3 linked regions of the Homo sapiens genome follow. The protein of the gene in region 1 purifies or fractionates together with the protein of each later gene. This does not show direct contact. Each region holds a gene or a part of one and is shown on either strand. Other genes may lie near its edges.

The links.
Region 2: the proteins of KDM5A (region 1) and ZMYND8 purify together in Homo sapiens (affinity purification with mass spectrometry; 3 studies listed by BioGRID and IntAct, with this or other methods). This does not show direct contact.
Region 3: the proteins of KDM5A (region 1) and GATAD1 purify together in Homo sapiens (affinity purification with mass spectrometry; 6 studies listed by BioGRID and IntAct, with this or other methods). This does not show direct contact.

Annotation. Positions count from the first base shown.
Region 1 is NC_000012.12:387,730-391,479, forward strand, and holds the start of KDM5A (lysine-specific demethylase 5A), read right to left. Parts: upstream 1,592-3,750; 5' UTR 1,363-1,591; coding exon 1,198-1,362; intron 1-1,197. UniProt on the Homo sapiens protein: Histone demethylase that specifically demethylates 'Lys-4' of histone H3, thereby playing a central role in histone code. Does not demethylate histone H3 'Lys-9', H3 'Lys-27', H3 'Lys-36', H3 'Lys-79' or H4 'Lys-20'.
Region 2 is NC_000020.11:47,238,073-47,241,822, forward strand, and holds part of ZMYND8 (MYND-type zinc finger-containing chromatin reader ZMYND8), read right to left. Parts: intron 1,067-3,750; coding exon 686-1,066; intron 1-685. UniProt on the Homo sapiens protein: Chromatin reader that recognizes dual histone modifications such as histone H3.1 dimethylated at 'Lys-36' and histone H4 acetylated at 'Lys-16' (H3.1K36me2-H4K16ac) and histone H3 methylated at 'Lys-4' and histone H4 acetylated at 'Lys-14' (H3K4me1-H3K14ac).
Region 3 is NC_000007.14:92,450,393-92,454,142, forward strand, and holds part of GATAD1 (GATA zinc finger domain-containing protein 1), read left to right. Parts: exon of another isoform or gene 1-308; coding exon 309-368; intron 369-3,750. UniProt on the Homo sapiens protein: Component of some chromatin complex recruited to chromatin sites methylated 'Lys-4' of histone H3 (H3K4me), with a preference for trimethylated form (H3K4me3).

The sequences.
Region 1 (3,750 bases):
GGCGGACTTTATTTACCTGTCAGGGCTTCAAAGATTAAAGCAAACAATCTATAGGTGTTAAATTAGTTCCTCCTCGCTGTCATTTAAGTTTTTAATACGCTGCGGTGCCTATCTCTGTGGTAGTCAGTGGTGACGGCAGATGCTTTTTAAAAAGCAACACTGGTTAACAGTGCTTAATATTTTATCATTACTAATACTAGACAAAACATAAAGCAAAATGCCTTTAACAAGCAACGACTAAAGCAATGGTTCGAAAACCTCAACTTACATGAGAATCATCTGAGACTAGTTGCTAGAAAAGCAGATTCCAGAACTTCCACAACAAGACTAGAGATCTGCATTTAAACAAGCATCCAGTTGACCCTGGTGCAAGTGGTCCAGCAACATCATTTAAAAAGCACTGGTCTAATGAGTAAAGAAAAACACCTTTGACCTTGAGTAATCACTCAACCTCTTGGGGCATTAATCCCCTCCACACAAGGGATAGTATCTGTTTTCCTTACCTCAAAGGTGAGATTATAATTAACCTTATAGGCAAACCTAGTTATCTGCAATAACTGTGATTCTAAAATCGTTGATCTTGAGTTCCCTACGTCAAGAGATTTCAACATTTCCTTCCACCTCCACTATAAACCAATTTTTCCTAAACCTCTAAATTTTAGAATTATTGCTGCTCCTTCTCTTTCCCCGCTAAGACTTTTTCACTGCGGCAATAATTAGTCTGGAGTTCTTGTCTAGTAATACCATCCGGTGAGACTAGAGCTCAGATAACCTTTTCAGAAACCCTAGCCCTGAGATGAGGCCTGCAAATATTTGATCCAACCAGGTCTTGAATAAAGAGATAGCCGACTATCAAACCATAATGAGGATACGTGAGGGAAGAATACGTCACGTCATAATACTGTACTTTAAACACCATATCGGCTAACGAAAGGCTTTAGGCCCACGGCTGAGAGAAAAGTATCAGTTCCCAAGTTCTAGGCGGAAGAGGCCCAAGAGACACCACTTTCTCGCTTTCAGACGTGTCTACATAAGACCACAAAAGAAACCGAGGCAAAAACATCCAGAAACAGGCTCCAGTTGTCTCAAAAGAGAGTACATATGAAACGAGACAAGGATCAGAAAAGTAAAGCTAAACCCAGTGTACGGACTCCCCCATTCTTCCTTCTCCCCCTCTCTCTTCACAGACTGAGGTACCTTGGGCGGCCGAATTTTGCAGATGCCGGTTTTCTCCGCCAAAGGCCGGATGCGGCCGATAAAGCTGAGCGGATCTGTGAACTCCTCCCAACTCGGCTCAAAGACGGGGCACTCTGGCGGTGGCACGAACTCCGCCGCGTAGCCCCCCGGCCCCACGCCCGCCATTGCAACGGCCGGGGGGGGGGGGGGGTCCCCGTGGGGAACCGGTGGAGAAAAGCTGGCTGAAGCCCACTAAGCCCGTTCAAGTCCCCTGACAGAGGCCGAAGCGCATCTTCGCGGACAAGAACCGTTCAACACAGAAACCCCAGAATCGCTTCCTCCTCCCGTTTGTTATTGTTTCTTGCAAGGCTTTTCCACTGAGGTTCAGGACTTTTCCGGAAGTTACCGTGCTGTCAAATCCCTCCGCCCCCTGCAGGAAACGGAATCCTTCCGCAGCTGCACGACGCCTGTGTGTCTGGCCTTTCCTTCTTCTTCTCTTCCCCGGCAGCACAGTGTGGCTGTTTGTCTCCTTGCCCGCCAAAGTTCTGCCCAGTCCAACGACTCCACGCAGCTCGCCCTTGGTAAGGGGTCGGGGAGGGGCACAAGCTCTTCTTTACTAGAGGTACGGATTGAGGGAAGCCGACGGGGCGAGGCGGGGCGAGGCGCAACGAGGCGGGGCGAGGCGCGACGCGACGTGACGCTTTCTTCCGGCGCGGAGGAATGTGTAATGCCCCAGAGGGCAGAGGTTGTGCTTCCGGTGAGGAGGGTCCCTTTCCCTTTTGTGTATCAGTGCACTCGAAAACACGCCGGGCTTAATCTTAAGCACCGCGCCTCACCGCCCGTGCTTCGTAATTTGTTTTAACCTACCCTGCTGCGTTTATAGCAAGTAGCCTTTCCAGCATTTCTCTTTTTTTAGCCCTTTGAATGCAGATATTTTACAGTAATCTCACTCTGCCACTTTATACCCGCCTCTTCTCCATCAAAACAAGTGCAGGTCTAACCCATCCCCTAAATCCTGCCAGCTGGCTTTAGCCACCATCCATGAATTGCTTTTCCTTTTACACAGGACGCAGCAGCTCTCCTGAATTACCAGCCAGTATCGTCTAGCTACCTGCAGGACATCTCACTTTGATAACTCAAAGTACTTTAATTGTTCACTGTTTCTTCAGTGTTCCTGGTTTCCATTAATGACTTCATCTATTCAGTTGCCTGAGCAAAAAAAAAAAAAAAAAAAAAAAATCAAGAAATAATCCTAATTCTTTCTGCTCTCACTTCCCATGTATAATCGTGTGTCTCTCCATCCCCGTTACCAGTATCCTAATTTAAATACTCTTACTGACAACAGCTGATTTCTCCTCTCAAATCCCTCTCCATCCACACGTTGGATTGCTTTGTCTAAAATCCAGAATTCATCTTGTCACTTTTCATCTCCAAACTCAACAACTCCAAACATCTTTTTTAATTGCTGATTTGCTGCTTTGCTCTCCAGCTTCATCTCTCCTGCTTCTCCATATGATCTACAGAAGTTTTTGTGGTGACTTTAGTACACCATGATTTTTCTCACCTCTGAGTAACAAATCAGGGGACTTTGAATAACGCAGATTGCCCTCCATAATGTGAGTAGGCCTTATCCAATCAACTGAAGGCCTGAATAGAACAAAAGACTGACCTTCCATGAGCAAGAAGGAATTTTGCCAGTAGATGGCTCTCAGACTTGAACTGTAGCATCACCTTTTCCCTGGCCTCCAGCCTGCCAACCCACCCTGCAGATTTTGGACTTGGAAGCTCTATAATCAAGTGAGTCAAGTCCTTAAAATAAATATCTTTATAAACACACACACACACACACACACACATCTTATTGGTTCTGTTTCTCTGGAGAACCGTGAATACATCTAGGGTTGGAGGGTTCAAGATGGCCTCACTTACGTGTCTGGCAGTTGGTGCTGGCTATTGGCTGGGAAGTCTTAGTTCTCCACATGGCTTCTCATCTTCTGGTAGATGGAGCTTTTCCACTGCATGGTGGTCTTAGCATTCTAAGAAGATGAGAGTGGAAGCAAAGACCTAAAGCCTAGACTCCAAAATGTACAAGATCACTCCATCATATTCTGTTGGTCAAAGCAAGTCATAAGACCATCCCAGATTCAAGAAGTGGGAAAATTCCAATTTTTTATGAGAAGAGTGACAATGTCACATTACAAAGGGGTGTAGACACAGGACGCTGTGATTCATAATAATTCCATACAATTATTATAATGATTTATGTCCAGGTGCAGTGGCTCACGCCTGTAATCCCAGCACTTTTTGAGGCCAAGGCGGGCAGATCACCTGAGGTCAGGAGTTTGAGACCAGCCTGGCCAACATGGTGAAATCCTGTCTCTATTAAAAATGTACAACAATTAGCCCAGGCGTGGTGGCAGGCGCCTGTAATCCCAGCTATCCAGGAGGCTGAGGCAGGAGAATTGCTTGAACCCAGGAGGTGGAAGTTGTAGTAAGCCGAGATCGTGCCACTGTACTCCAGCCTAGGCAAGAAGAGTGAGACTCTGTCTCCAAAAAAAAAAAAATTTACAACAA
Region 2 (3,750 bases), on another chromosome or scaffold:
CAAGGAAATTTATACAAAGATATTCATTGCAGCACTGCTCACAGTAGAAAAAAAACTGAAAGCAACCTAAATGCCCATTAGTAGAGGAATGCTTTAAATAAACTATGAAATACTATGCAGCAGTCCAAAAGAACAAGGCAGGGCTGTATGTGCTGATGTGGATGGACCTCCAAAACATGCTGATGGGTGGGGGAAAAAAGCAAGTATGGTACCATTTTTATGTTTTAAAAAAGAAAAAAAGGGGGGAAAAAGGACTAATTTTATGGCATCATATACATGATGCGCACATATATACATACAGATATGTATATATACATATACATGCATACATGCATAGAAAAGCTTTTACAACGGTTGATACTGGCCACTGTGGAAGGGAAGAGAATGAAATGGAAGGTAAACGGGATAACAGACTTTTATGTAAAACTTTCTGCCCCCTTTTTAAGGAGAATATATGCATGTATCATTTATAAAATGAACAAAAAAAACTTTTTGAAAGTAAAAAAGCAAGTAGCAAAACAATTTTTAAAAATAATGCCAAATGGAATGTGCAAGGCCTTCAAGATACAATGGCCCGGAAACAAACGAGAACTAAAAAAAAAAAATAAAAGAGCAATGACTTTCTCCTGTCGATGTGGCAAAATGGGAGCGGGCGCCACGGAGAACAGAAGGGGAGGCTCGGTACCTTTCACAGCCTGTCTGGTCTGATATCTCGTCCCCTGGGAAGACTGAGGCTGCTGCTGCTGGTTTTGCTGCTGCTGCTGCTGCTGCTGACGCTGCATCTTCTGCATGTGCCACTTTTGGGAGGACGTTTGAAACTTACTTGATGAGTTCCACACGACCCGCTGCACGGCCGGGGCAGTCTCCTTCGGTAAAAGCGGCCTCTGCTTTTTCACTGGGCTTCCTGTGGCGGCGGGGGCCGGGGCCGTGACGGTGACCGTGGAGGACGTGCTGGTGGTGGCTGTGGCGCCAGCCGCGGAAGTTTGGGCGGAAGAGCGGGTGAGCACCGGTGTTTCCGGGGGAGAATGGCTGCCCACCGTCGTGGATGGTGGAGTTTTACCTACAACTAGCCAATGCATGAAGAAAAAACAAACAAAAACCGGATTTCACTCAGGTTCACCTGCACGGTCTTGACGCCACCAAGTTCTGGGTAAAACCTATGAAAGCCAGGAATGCCGAACCAATTCGACGTGCCAAGCACACCGCGCTGGAGGAGTACATTCTCACCTAACGCTGAGGCCACTTCTGCGGCGTCTTCCATCTCCGCGAGCAGCGGCCTCCTTTACTGAGCGCCGGCCCACATCTGAGATACAAGTCAAGACCTCTAGGGGAGAATGAGGCAAACAAGACCCGGCTCCTGCGCTCAAGCTCCCCTACACCTAGTGGACAATGCGGTGGGCGAACAGATTCAATGTTCACGCCCTTTTCGCAAAGTTAAAATCTAGTCGGCACCTTGAGAAGGGCCCAGCGGAAGTCAATCCAGACAGGAAGAGCAATTCTTTGGCTAGGGAACGTAGAAAGCAATACCTCCAAAGAGCCAGATGGCCTCCCAATGGCCAAAGCAGTAACACTCAGTCACCCAGAAAGAAAAGTATTCTTTTCATCTCTTCTGATTCCCTCCAGGACAAAGTTTGAAGGCGGTACTGATAGCCAGGACAATACCAGGAAAACAAATTCTGCCCCAAGGCCAGAACCTTCCCCCAACGCAATGGTACTGATCTAGGATTGAGTAGCATTGCTTTGGTTTTGATTGGATTTATTCCTATCACCAGCTTTTATGTATACTGTGTGCTACTGTTCTTATTGGGTGGTGTTCAAGTCTAAAATGAGTTTATACTTGCAGATGCTTTTTTCAGGGGAAATTTTTTTACTAAAAAAATGAGGCCAAGCACGGTGGCTCACGCCTGTAATCCCAGCACTTCGGGAGGCTGAGGCAGGCGGATCACTTGAGGTCAGGATTTTGAGACCAGCCTGACCAACATGGGGAAACCCCGTCTCTATTAAAAATACAAAAAAATTAGCCAGACGTGGTGGGAAACTGAGGCAGGAGAATTCCTTGAACCCAGGAGGCGGAAGTTGCAGTGAGCCGAGATCGCGCCACTGCACTCCGGTCTGTGAGAAAGAGTGAGTGAGACTCCGTCTCAAAAAATATTACTAATAGGCCGGGCGCAGTGGCTCACGCCTGTAATCCCAACACTTTAGGAGGCTGAGGTGGGCGGATCACTTGTGGTCAGGAGTTCAAGAGCAGCCTGGCCAACATAGTGAAACCCCGTCTCTACCGAAAATACAAAAATAGCCGGGTGCGGTGGCAGGCGCCTGTAGTCCCAGCTACTCAAGAGGCTGAGGCAGAAGAATCGCTTGAACCCGGGACGTGGAGGTTGCAGGGAGCCGAGACCATGCCATTGCACTCCAGCCTGGGTGACAGGGTGAGACTCCGTCTCAAAATAATAATAATAATAAATGAAAAGTAAATAAAATGAGTTTATTTTATTTATTTATTGAGATGGATTCTCACTCTGTCACCCAGGGTGGAGTGCAGTGGCACAAACTTGGCTCACTGCAACCTCCGCCCTCTGAGTTCAAGCGATTCTCCTGCCTCAGCCTCCCGACTACGTGGGATTACAGGCGCCTGCCACCGCACCCAGCTAATTTTTTTTATTTTCAGCAGAGACGGGGTTTCGCCATCTTGCCCAGGCTGGTCTTGAACTCCTGACCTCATGATCCATCCGCCTTGGCCTCCTAAAGTGCTGGAATTACAGGCGTGAGCCAACGTGCCCGGCCTATTTTATTTTATGTTTTAAAGAGATAGAGTTTTGCTATATCACCCCGGCTGGGCTCAAGCAAGCCACTTCAGCCTCCCGAATAGCTGGGACTACACGGGACGTGCTACTGTGTCCCGCTTTAAATGAGCTTAATTTTATTTTTAAAGAATGAGATTCTTGGCCGGGTGCAGTGGCTCACGCCTGTAATCCCAGCACTTTGGGAGGCCGAGGCGGGCAGATCACGAAGTCAGGAGTTCGAAACCAGTCTGGCCAACATGGTGAAACCCCATCTCTACTAAAGATACAAAAAATTAGCCGGGCATGGTGGTGTGTGCCTATAATCCCAGCTACTTGGGAGGCTGAGGCAGGAGAATCGCTTGAACCCATGAGGCAGAGGTTGCAGTGAGCCGAAATCGCCCCATTGCACTCCAGCCTGGGTGACAGGGCGAGACTCCGTCTCAAAAAAAAAAAAAAAAAAAAGATTCTTTAAATAAAAAAAGTCAAAAATTATACAAGCAGGACTTGAGAACGGGAAAGACAATGAATGTGAATGACTCAAGTTTGAAAAACGCTGCCATATGGAGTATGTCATCTTGGAGGAGCTGGGCTGGTGGGGAATAAAGGGTAGGATTTCAACAGGCGGAAAGTGAGAATCTGGAGGGAACAGCATCAGCCAAGATATGTCTAGGAATACAGAGCATTTGAGTAAGTGAGGGCAGGCAGGGAGGAGGGGCTGGAAGGGAGGTTAGAGCCAGAAGCACTGAGCAGCACGTAGAGGCGATGACCACACGGGAGCTCATTTGTAAAGGTGGCTCAGTTATGGATGCACAGGCCTCAGCCCCCGGTAAGGTGAGCCTATGCCCCAGAGAGGATATCTGGGGAACACACACCACACCCAGGTACAAGCCAGCACCCCGATCTTGGACTATGCTCCCTGACATCAAACTCCTTTAAATAAGGATTATGTCTGCCTCTTTTTCTTTTCTTT
Region 3 (3,750 bases), on another chromosome or scaffold:
TACATTTTTATAACTGGAATGTTTATGTGTAGTGAAGCTCTGAGAGGACTTTGCATTAGATCTCAGCAGCATAATCAGAAGGTTGTCCTTTGTCTCAGCAATTTTTAAGCTAATAGTAGCAGAAATTGCAGTGGAAATAGACTGCTTTGCCACAACATTCAGAAAATCATTTATCTTTTTATTGCAGTTCTTGTCACCAAACAATACATTTTAGTACTTCTCAAATTGCAGAACTCTCATAGGGCTGGGAAAATGCCTGTAGACACATACATACTATGAATGTGCTAATGTTTTTTGTATTTTCATAGCCCATCAAAGCTCCTGAGTCAGTTTCCACTATAATCACTGCAGAATCAATCTTCTACAAGGTAAGCTTTTGTAGAGTTACTGAAGGAAGAGTTGGGCCTAGTGGGTAATGTGCCACTAAAATGTTGGATTAGTCTAAAGGTCTCTGCTACTCTTTATTTGTATAAGGTGTGATTATACTTTTTGTTCCCTTCTTAGCTGTTTTCCCCCATAAGTGGCTGTTATTAAAACATCTCATCTAGAGCTGAAGTGGGAGGAGAAAGTGCCTACTGACACATGATGTGAGGATCTTAAGTATTTTTTTTTAGTGTAGATTGTAGGAATTATTCTTAAAATGCTGATTGTATAGTGTGGAGCCATGGAAGACTGAGCCGTTAGTGCGATGGCATTGAAGAATGAGAAGGACAGAGACAGGATTTGGACTAGTAGAGGTTGTCGACTGTGGTGTCAAATGGGTAGAGTAGGCCCAGAGATTCTAAAATGCCTTTAAGTGGAGTTGAGCTGAGTAAGGGCAGTAGTGAGGATTAACACCTACTAGAAATTCATAGTGAGAGGAATTCCAAGATGTTTTGATAAAAGAATGAGGAGGTCAGGTTTCCCAGGGCCAAAGTCCATGAACATCTGATACCTCAGTGAGAGAAGTGACAGATTGTTGTGTTTAAACCAGAAGTCTTAGGAAAGGAATTAGAACATAGACCCCCAAGGCTCGGCAGGCCTGGCACGGCACAGGCAGCAACCATTGAAGGCTATTTGGTGTTTCGGGATCTGAACTGTCATTTAGGGGACAGTGGTGTGAGTTAGTACTTTATACTTGACCCAGGTGGACTGAGAAACTCAAGTGATGATGCCCTTAAGTATACTTTTTTTTAAGCCCACAATCTATATAGTCGAAGTCTGTTCCTCCCAACAGGGGTACACTGGCATTCCTCAGCAGGGCTGGGAAAAACCAACAACAAAAAAAGTCTGTACACAGGCAAACATCTCTCTTATTTTTCCAACATTTAATACATTGTTAATAAAATATCTAAAGTTTAGCAAACAGTTGCTGTGTATCAGTGGCTGAGCATTTTGCATGCTTTATTTCATTCAGTTCACTCTATGAGGTGGATACTACTATCCCCATTTTCTAGATGAGAACATTGAGGCACAGCGAGGTTAATTAACTTGTCCAAGATCACATAGCCAACAAGTCATGGAGTGAGGCAGTCTCATGCCAGAGCTTAAGCCTAGAGCATAGTTCCTGGCTCTACAGCTTTAGCAAGTGACTGGCTATGTGACGAGGACCAACCTCTCTAATGTCTCATCTGTAAAATAGGAATTGTAAATAGTTACTACCTCAGTGGGTCAAATGAAATCATATGTGTTAAGCACTTAGCAGAGTAAGCACTCAATGAATAGTAGGAGTTATCACATCTTCGTATTTGTGCATTACCTTCACAGTTTACAGATTAAGGCCAGAAGCAACTTGTTGAGCTACGGGTTTAGTGTACTAACAGTTTCCATGTGTGTCTCCATGGAAGGGTGTGTGGGACCTGTTATTGTGACTGTCTGTACTTTCGTATTGTTGTCTGCCACCCATGTTTATTAAATGATAAGGACAATAATGCAACAAAGTAGTCAAGTAATGTTGCAAATGCCCAGTATTGTAGTGGCTATCACAGCAGTGCCACTGGCAGGCAGCACCATGGTGGCAAGTTCAAGAGGTCACTGCCAGCCACTGAGCTAGAGCCCAGATCAGGCATGCAAGAGGAGCCTGAGTGGGAGCCACTGGGGATCACGGCCAAGAGTGTGACCACCCAAGACCCAGAATGGCTGAGTGGCCTCCCTGGAGCATGGCAGTGGCAGAACAACTCCATGAACTCAGATCTGGTGATGCCTAAACTAGTGCTGTTCTCGTGTGGACCCCTTTTCTCTACCAGAAACCTTGAATCCTCTCAGCAAATGAGGAGACTACTCAGATCAGTGACTTAGTCCTGTTTGGTGTTATATATGTGTACACAACACAGCACATATTAATAAATACCTACTATGTGCCAGGCACTGCCTACCACTGGAATCTTTCACTAAGACATTGTTTTTACTTTGCATTTCTGCCTTTACACTATGAAAGTAGATGTTTTGGATTCATATTCATTCAGCATACATTTGAATATGCTGTGTTATGCATAGTAAGCCTATGATAAGCAAGTATTCTCATTTAGAATTTGGGAATATTGATTATACATGTGGACAAACAAACCATAAATGCAAACTATTTATATGATAAATAACTTTGGACTGATGGCTGGGAGGAAGGACCAGCTATTGATGGGTAGGAACTAGCAAGTAGCGGACTGTGGCCTGCATAGACCAGACCCATCCGTAGTGATCCAGATGAAACAGCCACCCTCAGACACTTGGATAAAGGGTCCACCAGGAAAAAACTCCTGGCCTATCAGGTGCTATGTTACAGTTCAGTTACTGGAAGTATTTCCTCAAAAGTGTTTTTATGGTTGAGGTACACATTCCTACAGCTTTACCTGCTGCCAAGTCCCTGTTTCAAGGGAAGCAGCAATGAATTACACTGTTCCCGTAGTCAAGGACAGTATATCTTACCAAGAACTATACCCACTTAAGGAGGTGCTGGATGTCATAAAGATTTGGATCAACCATTATGGGTGTTCAGAGGAGAGATTATTTCCAGCTCAAGACCCAGGGAAGAGGACATAGGATGGATACCAGAGTCATAGGGAGGATTTAACACAGGACATGTACACATTAGTTAGTTGGGTATAAAGTGGAACAGAAATGAATGAGACACAAAGCCTTGAATGCCAGAAATACTAGTAGTCCTGTTGTGGAAGGATATAAAACTCAACTGGGAGTGGAAGAGAAAGGCAGCAGTGAGTCTAGGAGATGTACAGTAGGTTGAGGTAAACATATCCTGAAGACTATAATCCAAAGATTATTTTTGGTTTGAATTTGTTTTGGTTTGAATTCATGGTATCTATTTTCTTTGAGTGGATGGTTGGGGAGGGTGGCATGTAGAATGCATTCTTACCAAATCAGCATGATTTTCAAGACAGTACAGAGAAAAGACTGCTGAGCTGATGTAGGAGCTTTGGCTGCAGTCTCTATGGCTTTCAGCAAGCCGTTTAACCTTACTACTGCTTCATGACTGTGGCTAACAAAGTAGGGATAGTACGGAGCACAGAGGATTTTTAGGGCGGTGAAACTATTAATACTCTCTTTGTATGATACTATAATGGTGGGTACATGTCATTATACATTTGCCCAACCCCACAGAATACACAGCACCAAGAGTGAACCCTAATGTGAACTCTGGTCTTTGATGATGCTATGTCAGTGTACGTTCATCCGTGTAACAAGTGTACCACTCTAGTGGTGGGAGGGGTTATTGATAATAGGGGAGGATGTGCATGTGTGGGGGCAGGAAGTATATGG